2 separate regions of the Homo sapiens genome follow, and region 2 is linked to region 1. A link means that fine-mapping ties the variant in region 1 to the expression of a gene that starts in the linked region. Tissue or cell type: whole blood. Region 1 holds a variant in brackets; the other region holds the start of a gene. All regions are shown on one strand. Distances are between the middles of the regions.

Region 1 (8,125 bases):
CAGTCCTCAGCCAGCCGAGGGACAGATGGTAGCAAAAGCTGGAGGATGCTTAGGTTTTTGAGCCAAAAATCTTCATTTATGCGCCAGAAAGGTGGGTCCTGGGCGCCTTCTGTTGTAGACGTTTCCGTTGTGAATGTCCAGGTCAGACCCCCACGTCCATGTGTCTTCGTGTATGTCCAGGCACCACATGTGCGTGCACACCACTCCCGGGAGTCAGTGTGCTTGGCTCATGAGGACACGGCCAGCCACCGCGATGATTTTACAGACCCCACTGCCTTACGATCTGGGTGCCATGTGAGAAGCAGACTCATCAGCTTTATCGAATGACACCATTTGTTCTCTGTTCAGTGTCTCGATTTCTGTGTCTGTAGAAATGACTGGTGATTTTGGGAAGCATCTGCAAGAGCCCCACAGCCCACACACCTTTAGTTGTCAACCTGAGAGGCCCGGGGCCCTGTGCAGTGGGCAGACTAACAGCTGGGTGGCTCTTCAGAGCCTTGCAGGACATGGGCCAGGCTGCCTTGAGACCTGGACCCACTTGTCTGGTCACCGCCAGGCCTTCCCGTCTCGCCCACTGTGGGAGGGAGGGGACTCCAGACAGGACGAGGCCCACACACTCAGTGCCAGCTGGACTGCCGTGGGTGTGTCAGATGACTGCCTTGCCTTGTGTCCTCCCAAAACCTGATTCCTGCTGCTCTGGGCAGTCAAGGCAGATGCCACAGTTGGCCAGGGGCCTGCCCTGCTGGAGGCTTGAGGCGGCACGGGGGCTTCCCCAGGCCAGGACTCTGCTGGAGTTCTGGGGCTGGGGACCCCAGACAGTTGCTCTGAGAGGTGATTTGGGGCTGCCATGGCAGAGGCTGCCCTTTCTCTGCATGGCCCGGCCCAGCCCGGGAAGGAGGAAGGGAGGAAGGGAGGGATGCTGGAGCTGCCATCTTGGCTCCCGGGGACTTGGTGTCCATGCTGTAACACATCTGTCACTGCGTGGGTGTGGATGAGGCTGCCACATGCTGTGCCCTTTCCTGATGCAGCTTGTGATGCGTGAGATGCTGGAAATGTATTTAACTCGCAGCACAGGTGTCTCTGATGTTTTCTTCACCCCACCCCACCCCCCGACTCACTAATAAAAACAGCTCCGCACCTGGCCCAGCAGATCCTTTCCCACCGGCACTGCCAGAGGTTGTTGCTCGAAGTGTCACAAAGCTCACTCTAGCCCAGTGGTGGCTTCTATGTGGGGAGGCTGAGGGCCTCCTGTCCCCACCCAGATCTTGCCAGCAGGGAGCAAGAGGCACCTGCCACTGTCATGGGGAAGCTGGTGCCCTTGACCAGGGGTCCTGGGAACTGGCCTCACCCTGCTGGGCCCCTGCCTGGAGCACAAGGTGGACCAGAGGTGTCGGGCTGCCTGGATACCCCAGGTGCACAGTCAGAGGAGCCCAGGCCCCAGACGCATCCACAGCAGATCCTCCTGTTCGTGAGTCTCTGGGAGGGTAGGCCAGGCGGCCACTCAGCAGGGTCCTGTCCCATCCTCTCCCCAACCCTCCCAGAGCTGTAAGGACACTGCTCAGCTCAGCCTAGGTCCATGACCCTGGGGGTACTGGGGCTGGAGCTGCTGTCTCCACCATGGTCACTTAGGGGACAAGTGGTGTGCCCGAGAGGCGGCTGTGGGTTACTTGAGTGCCTGGCCCAATGAGCACCCGTGGGTGTCTGCCTGTAGCCTCCCCTGCTGGGGCTGGCAGGGCTGCTGGTGGAGCCCCTGGCTGAAGATGCTGGGCCCCTGCCAGGGCGGACCCAGATGCAGCCAGACAGATCCAGGGCAGACCCGACATGCGCCTGTGCCATCTGATGCCAGCCCCTGACAGGTGGGAAGGAGCATTTGTGGGGGTGCGTGGGCATCACTGGCATGCGGGACCCGTGGCAGAAGCACCAGGGCCACTTCCCCTCTGACTGTAGAACTGGGACAGCTCCCATCCCCATCCTGTGCCCTCGCCTGTCTCCTGGGCCGCACCAGTTCTTGGGGAGGCCCAGCCCCAGGACCCCCAGGTCGGAGTGCTGCCTTCTGGGGCCCATGCAGCCAAACTGCTGGGCCCAGCGGCCTCTGCCACTTCCTTACAGCAGCCCCAAGGCAGTGCTGTCCTGTGAAGCTGGGCTTCAGGGAGGGTACCAGCTGGCTACTCCTTTCCCTCCTTGGGAGTGGCAGGTCAGAGGTAGGGATCTCTTTTTGAAGATCCAGGCTGTCATGGGGCTGGGGCAGGCAGCAGCCCACCCAACAACAGGCTCCCAGGAAAGCATCATTGCTTCAGACCGCAGCCCAGGACAGGCCCTTGGGCTCCCTCCTTGGGTTTGGAGCCAGGAGCCTTGGGGCAGTGTGCAATCAGCCATGCAGCTCCACCTGCCACCGGCTGGCCCAGGCAGATCTCAAGTGAGCCTGCTCGCCCCAAAGGCGGATGATGTGGAGTCTGCCTCCCTACCAAGACTGGCGCAGCCCCTCCTGTTTACCTGACTTGATGCTTTCGGCGGGACCTGGCCTGGGGCAGGCGCAGCCTCAGCCCTCCAATAACCTCATCTGGCCCTGTGGCCTCCCTTCTCTGTGCCCGTGAGGATAGTGGCTGCCCGTGTCTCCCACCCCCAGCCCTGGGGTGAGGACCCCTTCCCTAAGGGGATGTTTCTGGCAAGGCTTTTTGGGATCTTTTGTGGTAGGTGAGGGCCAAACACAAGACCCAGGAAAGCACCTACCAAGAGAATGGAGGTTGGGACCGGGGGCTGGGACTGGAGGCCAGGATCGGGGTGGGGGGAATGGGACCGAAGTCCCTGGGACACAGCTGAGGTCCAGCCACATCCGGGTCCCCAGGCCTGCCGGCTGTCCTCGCCAGAGGGCCCAATTGGTAGGGGTGCATTCCTAGAGCCACATGGGAGGGGGGCCTGCCCCGGGGAAACAAGCCCTTCCCACAGCCTTCCTGGATGTCACGCCTGGCCAGGTAACTATGGCAAGGGCTGTCATCCACCGTTCATTCAACAGACACTTAATGCCTCTGTACACAGGCTCTTGGCCCACAAGGAGTACTTGGAGGGACCAGGCCCATCCCTGGGGAGGGAGGGTAGACCCGGGTCCTCCCTGGCAGCCGCCGGCCCCAAGAGGGACACACCCAGCCTCTGCGCGTGGTGGGCTGCCTAGGAAGAACTGTGCCCACTTACTAAGGAAGATATGGTGCATCTGAGACAAGGGCGGGGGACACATAGCCACCCTTACAAAACCAGGAGTCAGAAAGGCCCAGAGAGGACAGGGGCCTGCCCAGGGCCACACAGCTCTGCACACTGCTCCCACGGAGGAAAGCAGCCGGGAGGATCCCACCCCGGGGGGCTGCCAGGGAGGTGGGCTCGGTTTGTCCGCTGAAGGAACCCCTCATCCTGGCCTTCACAAGGGAAGGGGCTGGGCCCTGGGAGAGAGGAGGCTGTAGCTGGGGGCTCCAGGCCGCAGGGCCCAGCCTGGGTGTGTCCTGCAGCTCCTGCTGAGGCTGGGCCCAGGCCTCCCAGCCACGTGTGCCCAGCTGTTTGTAGGTCCTTTGAAGGGCTGTGTGCCAGGTGTTTGTGCGCCCCCGTGTGGGGCCGATGACAGCTGTGCACCTGGTGTCTTCGTGTGCCTGGCTGCCAGCGCGTGTGCCCTGTGCGCTGTGTGTGCCGCAGGGTCCGTGTCTGTGGGGGGGTCCATGTGTACAAGGGGTGTGTCTCCAGGCCTGTGCTCTCACGTGTGCGGCCAGCCCCCCGCGTGCATGCGGGGCAGCATTTATTTGCACTTGTGCACATAGTAGCCTGTGAGGTAGCCCAGGATGAAGATGATCCAGAAGAGGGCCACGCCGCCCAGCACCTTCATGGCGATGCCCAGCTTGCCCGTGCACAGCCTCTGGGAGATCCTGGGGTGAGAACCAACTGGAGGTGAGCCCCAGGCCAGGGCCGCATGAGGGGCCCCCTAAGTGGACTGTGGCCGTTGGTCTGGGTCAGGGGGAGGGGCCTGGGCGCTCTGCTGGAGTCAAGAGGAAGCTCTCCCCGCCCACAGCCAACCAGAGGGAAGGCCAAAGGCTGCGGTTTGCTGAGCTGCTGGACCGTGGGCTCCCAGCCAGGATGGGGTGGAGGGTGATGGGGCCGGTAGCAGGGGTTAGGGCAGGCGTCTCTGGAGGGAGACACCAGCCTGCTATGGCTGGCAGGCTGCCCTCAGGCCCCTCACCTGCGGCAGCGTGAGGCCTCTTCTGTGCTGGACACAGCCCCTAGGCTGACTCCGTCCCTGCTGCCGTCCTCCCACCTACTATAGTGGACGTGGCTCTCCTGGGGCTGCATGCTGTGGGGCTGCAGCGGGAGGGGCGGGGCCTTCTCGGTGGGGAGATCAAGACAGGTGGCCAGGCTGTGGCTTCACTGTAAAACAAGCGGATGGAGGGCGGCAGTCAAGACCCCCTCTGAGGCTGCTGTTAGGAGAGGGGCACTAAGGGTCGGGGGCTGACTCCCTCACCGGGTCTGTCGCCTGACTTAACAGGTGACCTAGACACAAAGTGGTAGAGTCATTTGCCCAGGGTCAGGCCGGGAGGATGGGACCAAGCGAGAATTCCATCTCAGGCCAAGCCCTGACCTCAGGCATGTGGGAGGCCAGTGTTTCCTTCCAGCACACTCCAGGAGCCTCCCTTCCCCGGTGCTTTTATCAGGGAGCCTGCACAGCCTGCCACCCTCAAGAGACGAGGACATTGTGGCCCAA[T/C]CTAGGCTGCAGCCCCTGATAACTGTCCCCCTCCTTAACCCTGCCCGATAAGGCGCCTTCTGGCCTCTGGGGAGGCTGGCCAGGGGAGGGGGGGGTGGGGCAGGGCAGCAGGTCCGGGGCAGCGGCTGGTACAGCTAGACCGGTCCCTGTCTGGGGAGGATGCGTGGCTGGCCCCAGGCAGTGGCAGCAGCTGTGTCCTCAGCCTGTGTGGGTTGCAGCCCCTCCCCCACCCACACCTCTAGGAGGGCTGGGGCTTGGGGGGCATGATGCACTGAGCACGGGGCCGGGGTGGATTCAAGGCCTTGGGGAGGCCCTACAGAGACAGGAGGGTCGTAGGGCTGGGTGGCTGCCCAGAGCAGGAGGGGCCCGGCCCCAAGGCCAGCTCCCTGCTGGGCTCCAACTCCTGCAGACCTGGGACTCATCTTTGCATCTCGGCACTCAGCTCGGTGCCTGGCAGCCCAAGTGCCCAGAGGGGCGAGGAGACCACGGGGACTGAGCAGGAACTCCAAGCACTAGCACAGCTGCCCGGCCGGCCTGAGCCAGCCCGGACTCTAAGCACCTCCTTTACCCTCTGGCCTCTGTTTCGACCTCCTATTTACCTAAGGGGGTGTGGGGGTGGAGGAGTTGGAGGGGGCACGAGAAGTTGACAACCCACCCAGGCTGTGGGACTGGGGTCAGCTCTCTGGTCTGCTGGGCCCCCAGTGTCCCCTCTCAGCATCTGGCCCCCAGGAGTGGGGTCCTCGGGCAGGCAATGGCAGGCCCCTCACTTCTAGGAGCTGAGGCTTTGCTGGGCCCCCTCCAGCGGGGAAGGCTGACCTTCCTCCCAGGTCATCGGCACAGAGGCCTAAAGGCACAGCAGCCACTCCCCTGCAAGAAGCCAGCTCAGAAACTCAGGCCCCAGGCAGTTCTGAGACTCCCGGCACTTCCATGTCTGCCTTCCCCCAAAGCCCAGAGAGGCAGAAGGAGCTGTCTCAAAGCCATAAAGTGTGCCTTCGGTGGGAGCCCTGGCTCAGTGCAGCCTGGCACTCAGGCCCGGAGAGGCCCAGCCTCTACTGGAGTATGGGTGCTGTTTTCCCGGAGCATGTGGAGCGGTCAGCTGCCTACCCGAGGTTCACGCCCTCTTGCCTGGTGTGCAGAATCCCATTCTGGTCCCAGCAGCAATGTGCCAGCCCCAGGTAACAGCCATGACCCGGGTAAGACAAGCTTAATACCACCACCCCTGCTTTCCCAAGTCACCCAGCTGGGGTCCAGGAGCCAGGGTGCAGCAGGGGATGGGAGAGTTTGCTTCTGTGAAAGCAGCAGCAGCCACCTCCTTCTTCCAGACTCGACGTGATGGCTGGAGCTGCTGGAGCTGCAGCAGCCGCCTTGCAACCCGACATCCACGCAGCATTAGTCTCGGGAGTGCTGAGGCTCCAAGTCCACAGCAGCAGCCCACCATGGGCCTCCCGGTGGGAGGGGTCAAGCCCAGTGTGTTCAACTCTGGGATCATGGGTTCCTGTCTTGCTGACGTAGAACACGTTGTTCCCAAGTCACCCCGGTGCACAGCCACCAGAGCCGGCCCTTGAGGCTGGCCTCCCTCACTTGCTCAGTAAACGTCTCTCCACACTCATGTGATGGTCACAGGTGTGGCGGCAGGAACCCATCAGGGACTCCCCTCCAGGCCCTGGGAGGCTCCCGGATCCTGGCACCTCCTGGGGGCTTGTGAGTGCAGGAAGGCCCTAGGTACACAGGCGCCCCTCCATAGACCTCTTCACCCCACAGCGCCTCAGGGCCCCACACTTACCCGGAGAACCTTGCCTGAGGGCTGGGGCCTCTGGGCCAGGTTGCGGTCAGGGCCTGGCCAGCGGCCCGCACCTCCCAGCGGGGCAGGTCGTGGGCTGAGGTGCGGCAGACGCCTCGAGCCTAAAAAAATAAAGGTGACCGGAGAAGCCGATCTTGCTAAGGGCCGGGAAGGGAAAGTGGCTGGTGTCGGGGGTCCCCAGCAGCCACAAGGAGCCGGGCAAGGAGCCGGGCGGGCAGTTCCGGCCCTGGCCCCGCACCGCGGGTTAGGCCGGTGGGGGTCAGTCCAGGGCACGCCCCCACCCCCGCCAGTTCTCAGCCAGCGAGGCCGCGCACAGTCGCACCTGCCCACTGCGGCCGCACCGGGAAGCCGCAGCCCGGACCCCGCGCGCCTCACCTGTGTCCCCGCGTCTCTGGGCTCCGCAGGGGCCGGGCCTGGGCAGGGGGCGAGGGCGGGGGCGGGGCCACGCGGGGAAGGGCTGGAGCCAGCAGCGGGGAGGTGTCTGGTCCGGAAGGTGGCGGGGCTAGAGTGGTGGGCGGGGCCATGCGGGGAAGGTCTGGGGCCAGTAGCGGGGAGGCGCCTGGTCCAGAAGGGGCCGGGGGCGGGGCGAGAGGGGGCGGGGCGAGAGGGGGGCGGGGCCATGCGGGGAAGGGCTAGGGCCGCAGCGGGGAGGCGCCTGGTCCAGAAGGGGCTGGGGGCGGGGCGAGTGGGGCCGGGAGACGCCTCGTCCGGAAGGGGCCGGGGCTCTAGGCCGCCCAGCCCCGGGGCCAGGAGGTGCAGGGGGGCCGGGCAGGGTCTGCAGAGGGCTGCACTTTCTGCCCCCAGACGGCTCGCCCTTGGGGCCTCCAGGGTCCCCGACCTCCTTCACCCCTGCTGGAGCCCCTCCGACGCCACGAGCCTCCCAGCCCCGCGGGGACCCGGCTGCAGCGCCGACGAGACTGCGGGAGGCTCTGGGCGCGTCTGGGCCTGAATGCTGGGTTCGGGGACCCGGCCGCGGGGACCGTCCTCCTCCGGGGCTTGAGGGGCGTGGCGCCCGCACGTGGCCCACGCTCGGTGCTCGCGGCGGGAAGGGAAGCAGGTGTGGGTGGGGAGCAGAGAAGGGTAATGGGGAGAGTCCCTTCCGAAGGTGTTCAGGCGCCCAGAGCCTCAGAGGCGCCGGGGAAGCGTCGGGGACCACAGACACCGTTCCCGTGCGTAAAGCTTTCCTTCCAGGAGCGGGGGGATGGGAACAGAGCCCCCCACCCTCACCATCTTCCAGAGGGGTCCTCCAGCAAGAGAGTGCCCCAGCCAGGAGAGCCCCCAGGGCAGAAGGTCACAGACCCCTTCTGCTCAGGCGTGAGGTCTGTGCTGAGTGCTGGGCGGACACCCCGGCTCAGGCCTCTGGCAGCCTGGTGCCGCAAGGGGACCTGTTAGGAGCTAGGGGCACAGGCTGGTGTGCTGACTCCCTGTGAGTGAGCTTTGGAATGGGGAGTGTCCTTGTAGCTCAAGGTCGCAGAGGAGAGTAGGCCCCCGCGTGGATCCCAGAGAAGAAAAAGGTGGGACAGTGCCAACACCGGGGTTTAATTCTGAGTCTGAGAGCAGGACGCATGGTGGGGGCGGGTGGTTCTGGA
Region 2 (5,000 bases), 21 kb before region 1:
AATAGGCAGCCTTGCAGGATTGTTTTAAGATACAGCAAGGAAATATAATTTGGGGTAAAATACTTCAATTTCCTTCAGGGCCTTGATCAGTCACATAATGCTCTACTAGAAACAGGCTAGAATTTGGTATCATTGCTACAAAGAGTCAGCTTTGTCAGTCTTTTATTGTTGTTGTTATTTTGAGATGGAGTCTCGCTCTGTCACCCAGGCTGGAATGCAGTGGTGCAATCTTGGCTCACTGCAACCTCCGCCTCCTAGGTTTAAGCAATTCTCCTGCCTCAGCCTCCCGAGTAGCTTGGATTACAGGCGCCCGCCACCATGCCCAGCTAATTTTTGTATTTTTAGTAGGGATGGGTTTTCACCATGTTGGTCAGGCTGGTCTCAAACTCCTGACCTCAAGTGATCCACCCGCCATGGCCTCTCAAAGTGCTGGGATTACAGCCATGAGCCACCACACCTGGCCTGGCTTTGTCAGTCTTAAAGTCTGTGTTGATATTAATGATGGTCAGGTGGGCCTGAATTCCCAAAGGGAGGAGAATATAATGAGGCATGTCCAACCCCTACCCCTCCACATCCGACCCTTCCCATCATGGCCTGAACTAGTTTTTCAGATTAACTAGGGAATGCCCTTGGCCCAGAGGAGGGGTCCACTCAGATGGTTGGGGGGCTTAGAATTTTATTTTATTTTTATTTATTTATTTTGAGACGGAGTCTCACTCTGTCGCCCAGGCTGGAGTGCAGTGGCGCAATCTCCGCTCACTGCAAGCTCCGCCCTCTGGGTTCTTGCCATTCTCCTGCCTCAGCCTCCCGAGTAGCTGGGACTACAGGCGCCTGCCACCAAGCCCGGCTAATTTTTTTTGTATTTTTAGTAGAGACGGGGTTTCACCGTGTTCACCAGGATGGTCTCGATCTCCTGACCTGGTGATCCGCCCGCCTCGGCCTTCCAAAGTGCTGGGATTACAGGCATGAGCCACCGTGCCCAGCCTCTAGAATTTTATTTTTTGGCCAGGTTTGGTGACTCACACCTGTAATCCTAGCAATTTGGGAGGTTGAGGCAGGTGGATTGCTTGAGTTCATGGGTTTGAGACCAGCCTAGGCAACATGGCAAAACCCCAGCTCTACAAAAAATACAAAAATTAGCCAGGCGTGGTGGCACATGCCTGTGGTACCAGCTACTCAGGGGCTGAGGTGGGAGGATCACTGGAGCCAGGGAAGTTGAGGCTGCAATGAGCCGAGCTGGAACCACTGCACTCCAGCCTGGGTAACAGAGCAAGACTCTGTCTCAATAAATAAATAAATAAATAAATAAGAATTTGGGGGCTGGGTGCGGTGGCTTGTGCCTGTGAGCCCAGCACTTTGGGGGGCTGAGGCGAGCAGATCACCTGAGGTCAGGTGTTCGAGACCAGCCTGGCCAACATGGCGAAAACCGGTTAATATAAAAATTATATTAACACGGTTAATATAAAAATTAACCGGCCACGGTGGCATGCACCTGTAGTTCCAGCGGGAGGCTGAGGCAGGAGAATTGCTTGAACCCAGGAGGCGGAGGTTGCAGTGAACCAAGATAGCATCACTGCACTCCAGCCTGGGTGACAGAGCGAGACTCCGTCTCAAGAAAAAAAAAAGAATTTTGGTTTTGGTTTACACCACTCAAAAGTGCAGGAATTCCAAAACAAGCCGGTCGGGGCACAGTAGAGCACAGACTCTGGCTCCTCCATCCGCCCGCACCCCACCCTGTGAAAGGAAAATAAATCTCAAAACCCCACAATCACTAAGTCAAAGGAAAAAGTCAAGCTGGGAACTGCTTCGGGCAAATCGGCCTCCCGTCTTATTCCTAAATAAGATAGTTACAAATACATATTTTTAAAGCTACACACCTCCCTCACAATTTGCCCACAAAGAAATTCTCTGTGGGCCTCAAGATCTTTACCCTAAAACAGTTCTGTTGAATTTCACCCTGGCAATGCAAATTGATAGCTTCCCTTCACAGGTGCGAGACAAAGGACTGAACTCAAAGCCATCCCTCTGCTCACCTAGACAAATGCATATCTGATCGCTTCCTTTGCTCTACTGTTTACGTAGAAATGAAGATTCAGTAAGCCAGACTAAAGCATAAGCGACTATTCCTCTACCCGCGTCTCACATGCATAATAAATTGTGCAGTCAGCGAAAGGCTGAACAAAGACTCAAAAGAATGCACCCTCCGGTCTCTTCTCTACCTGTGACCTGAAAGCCCTCTCCTGGAATTGTCCAGCCTTTCTGGGCTGAACCAAGGTACACTCGCACGTGTTGATTGATGTCTCACGTCTCCCCAAAATGTACAAAACCAAGCTGCATCCCAACTTCCCTGGGCACCATCGTCACGATCTCCTAGGGTTGTGACACTGGCGTGTCCTTAACCTTGGCAAAATAAACTTTTTACATTTCATTGAGTCCTGTCTCAGATATTTTTGGGTTCATAACCCCCACCCTCACCCCTACCCGCGGAGAGAGCGAGCCGCTCTCCAGCCCCTCCCCGGCTCTACGCAGGAGAGGCCACTCTCCTCTATGGCACGCGCGGCGGCACTCTAGCAGCCAGGTGGCTTCTCTATGGGCTTTTCCGGCACAGGTCGGAAGTGGCGCGCGCTGCCCCGGAAGCACCCTGGTGGGTGGGTGCCTGCCAGCAGCTGAGGCGCCATGGCGGCGGCAGCGGTGTCAGAGTCTTGGCCGGAGCTGGAGCTGGCTGAGCGCGAGCGGCGGCGGGAGCTGCTGCTGACGGGGCCCGGGCTGGAGGAGCGAGTGCGGGCGGCGGGTGGGCAGCTGCCGCCGCGGCTTTTCACCCTGCCGCTGCTGCACTACTTGGAAGTGAGCGGCTGCGGGAGCTTGCGCGCGCCGGGGCCTGGCCTGGCGCAGGGCCTGCCGCAGCTGCACAGCCTCGTGCTGCGGCGCAACGCGCTGGGGCCCGGCCTGAGCCCCGAGCTCGGGCCGCTGCCTGCCCTTCGGGTGCTCGACCTGTCGGGCAACGCGCTGGAGGCGCTGCCGCCGGGCCAAGGCCTGGGCCCCGCCGAGCCGCCGGGCCTTCCGCAGCTGCAGAGCCTCAACCTCAGCGGCAACCGGCTGCGCGAGCTGCCAGCCGACCTGGCGCGCTGCGCCCCGCGCCTGCAGAGCCTCAACCTCACCGGCAATTGCCTAGACTCCTTTCCCGCCGAGCTCTTTCGCCCCGGCGCGCTGCCCCTGCTCAGTGAACTGGCGGCTGCTGACAACTGCCTCCGAGAACTCAGCCCCGACATCGCCCACCTGGCCTCGCTCAAGGTCAGCGGGGGCTGCCCGGGCGGGGCGGGATGGGGCCTTGGAGTAGCCCTGGAGAAGGAACCCCTCTCGGGGCCGAGCAGTTCCTAGTGACGCCCCCTGGGGCACTGGGCCCAGGGAATTCCTACAAGGCTGAAAGGAGCCAGCTGCGGGGGGCATCACCCCTGGGAAGCAGATGCCGCCTTCCAACTCCCCCTTCTCCTGGCCACACCAACATACTAGGTGGCCTCTGAACTCCCCCGCATTCTGTTAACTGGACTTTTACACGTGGTACGCTATTTTGTAATTGTTAGCAAACCTGGCTTCTCCTGTAGATCGAGCGTAGAGACCTGTCTTTTTTGTATCTAGTACTTGTGAAGTGACTTGAGAGTGAGTCTGGTGGTGAAGGGGGCACCCTGGATTTTGCATAATGCCACATGCTGTGATCTTGAAGATTATATTTCACTTCATCCTAATAGCAGCTTTCCAAGGTAGGGGTGGTTATTCCTGTTTTACAGAAAGCCAAAGGGCCTGCCCAAAGTAAGCAGCAGGTAACTTGGGTTTTTCTCCAGACTATATTGTCCAGCGTCTGTTTACTAATTAATCTTGGATCCCCAGGCCCCGCGATAATGCTTGGCCTATAACAGGTGCCCATTGAATCTGTTGCCTAAAAGAAAGTAGGGAAGCCACATGGCAGAACCACGACCTAAACCCAGCCAGATGTTCTCTCCATCTTCTCTTTTGGTTTCATCCTTAAGGCAGTCCTGCATTTCTTCCCCCATTTTTCGTCTTTGAATTTATGCAGACATTTCTTTTTTTTTTTTTTTTTTTTGAGATGTAGTCTGGTCCTGTCACCCAGGCTGGAGTGCAGTGGCGCGATCTCGGCTCACTTCAACCTCCGCCTCCCGGGTTCAAGCGGTTCTTCTGCCTCAGCCTCCTGAGTAGCTGGGCTTACAGGCGCACACCACCACGCCCGGCTAACTTTTGTGTTTTTAGTAGAGACGGGTTTCACTGTGTTGGTCAGGCTGGTCTCGAACTCCTGACCTCATGTGATCCGCCTGTCTCGGCCTTCCAAAGTGCTAGGATTACAGGTGTGAGCCACCGCGCCTGGCCTATGTGGACATTTCTTAATAAAATACGTATACACTTTAGCAGCTTATCTATTTATTTGCTGTAGCAATTCCTCAAGACATTGCAACTCATTTTACAAGTAACATATCTATATAAGGATATATAGACAAACCCTGGCCGGGCGCGGTGGCTCACACCTGTAATCCCAGCACTTTGGGAAGCTGAGGCGGGCAGATCGCTTGAGGTCACACCACCAGCCTGGCCAACATGGTGAAACCCCATCTCTACAAAAATACAAAAATTAGCTGGGCCTGGTGGCGCGTGCCTGTAGTCCCAGCTACTCGGGAGGCTGAGGTGGGAGGATCACTTGAGCCCAGGAAGTGGAGGTTGCAGTGAGCTGTGATACCAGCCTGAACAGAGCGAGACCCTGTGGCAAAAAAAACAAACCCACTGTAGAGTGACACATGGTTACTGATGTAACTGCCCAATGGGTTCATTTTATCCACTACCCGGATAGAGCTGATTTATCAGGGCAGGAGGGTTGCAATAGAGAAAGTTTTACACATGTAGAGCCAGCTAAAGTGGAGACTGGAGTTTTACTGTTATTATTATTGTTGTTTGAGATGGAGTCTCGCTCTGTCTCCCAGGCTGGTGTGCAGTGG

Alleles and levels. Alleles are on the strand shown, and positions count from the first base shown. SD is a standard deviation of normalised expression in the study named.
In carriers of allele T in region 1, the expression in whole blood of the gene that starts at base 2,655 in region 2 tends to be lower than with C alone (small effect, 0.24 SD a copy in GTEx).

What was found. PIP is the estimated chance that this variant, and not a neighbour inherited with it, causes the effect.
Region 2: it holds the start of LRRC47, and the variant in region 1 is fine-mapped to the expression of LRRC47 in whole blood (GTEx, PIP above 0.99).

Annotation. Positions count from the first base shown.
Region 1 is chr1:3,771,575-3,779,699 of GRCh38, reverse strand. SMIM1 (small integral membrane protein 1 (Vel blood group)) reads right to left here and starts at 6,951. Exons shown (of 4, transcript NM_001288583.2): 1 at 6,912-6,951; 2 at 6,519-6,637; 3 at 4,217-4,401; 4 at 3,744-3,905. The coding sequence starts at 4,326. The coding sequence ends at 3,779. It overlaps CCDC27 (coiled-coil domain containing 27), which reads right to left. Exons shown (of 12, transcript NM_152492.3): 12 at 8,055-8,125. It overlaps LRRC47 (leucine rich repeat containing 47), which reads left to right. Exons shown (of 7, transcript NM_020710.3): 7 at 1-1,141. RefSeq lists enhancers at 4,049-4,108, 4,024-4,539, 4,688-4,832, 5,572-6,087, 6,088-6,603 and 1 more, cis regulatory regions at 4,736, 4,728-4,744 and a silencer at 6,665-7,544. The variant T/C (reference allele first, on the strand shown) is at 4,736.
Region 2 is chr1:3,794,153-3,799,152 of GRCh38, reverse strand. LRRC47 (leucine rich repeat containing 47) reads left to right here and starts at 2,655. Exons shown (of 7, transcript NM_020710.3): 1 at 2,655-3,291. The coding sequence starts at 2,677. RefSeq lists an enhancer at 2,474-2,768 and a silencer at 2,884-3,093.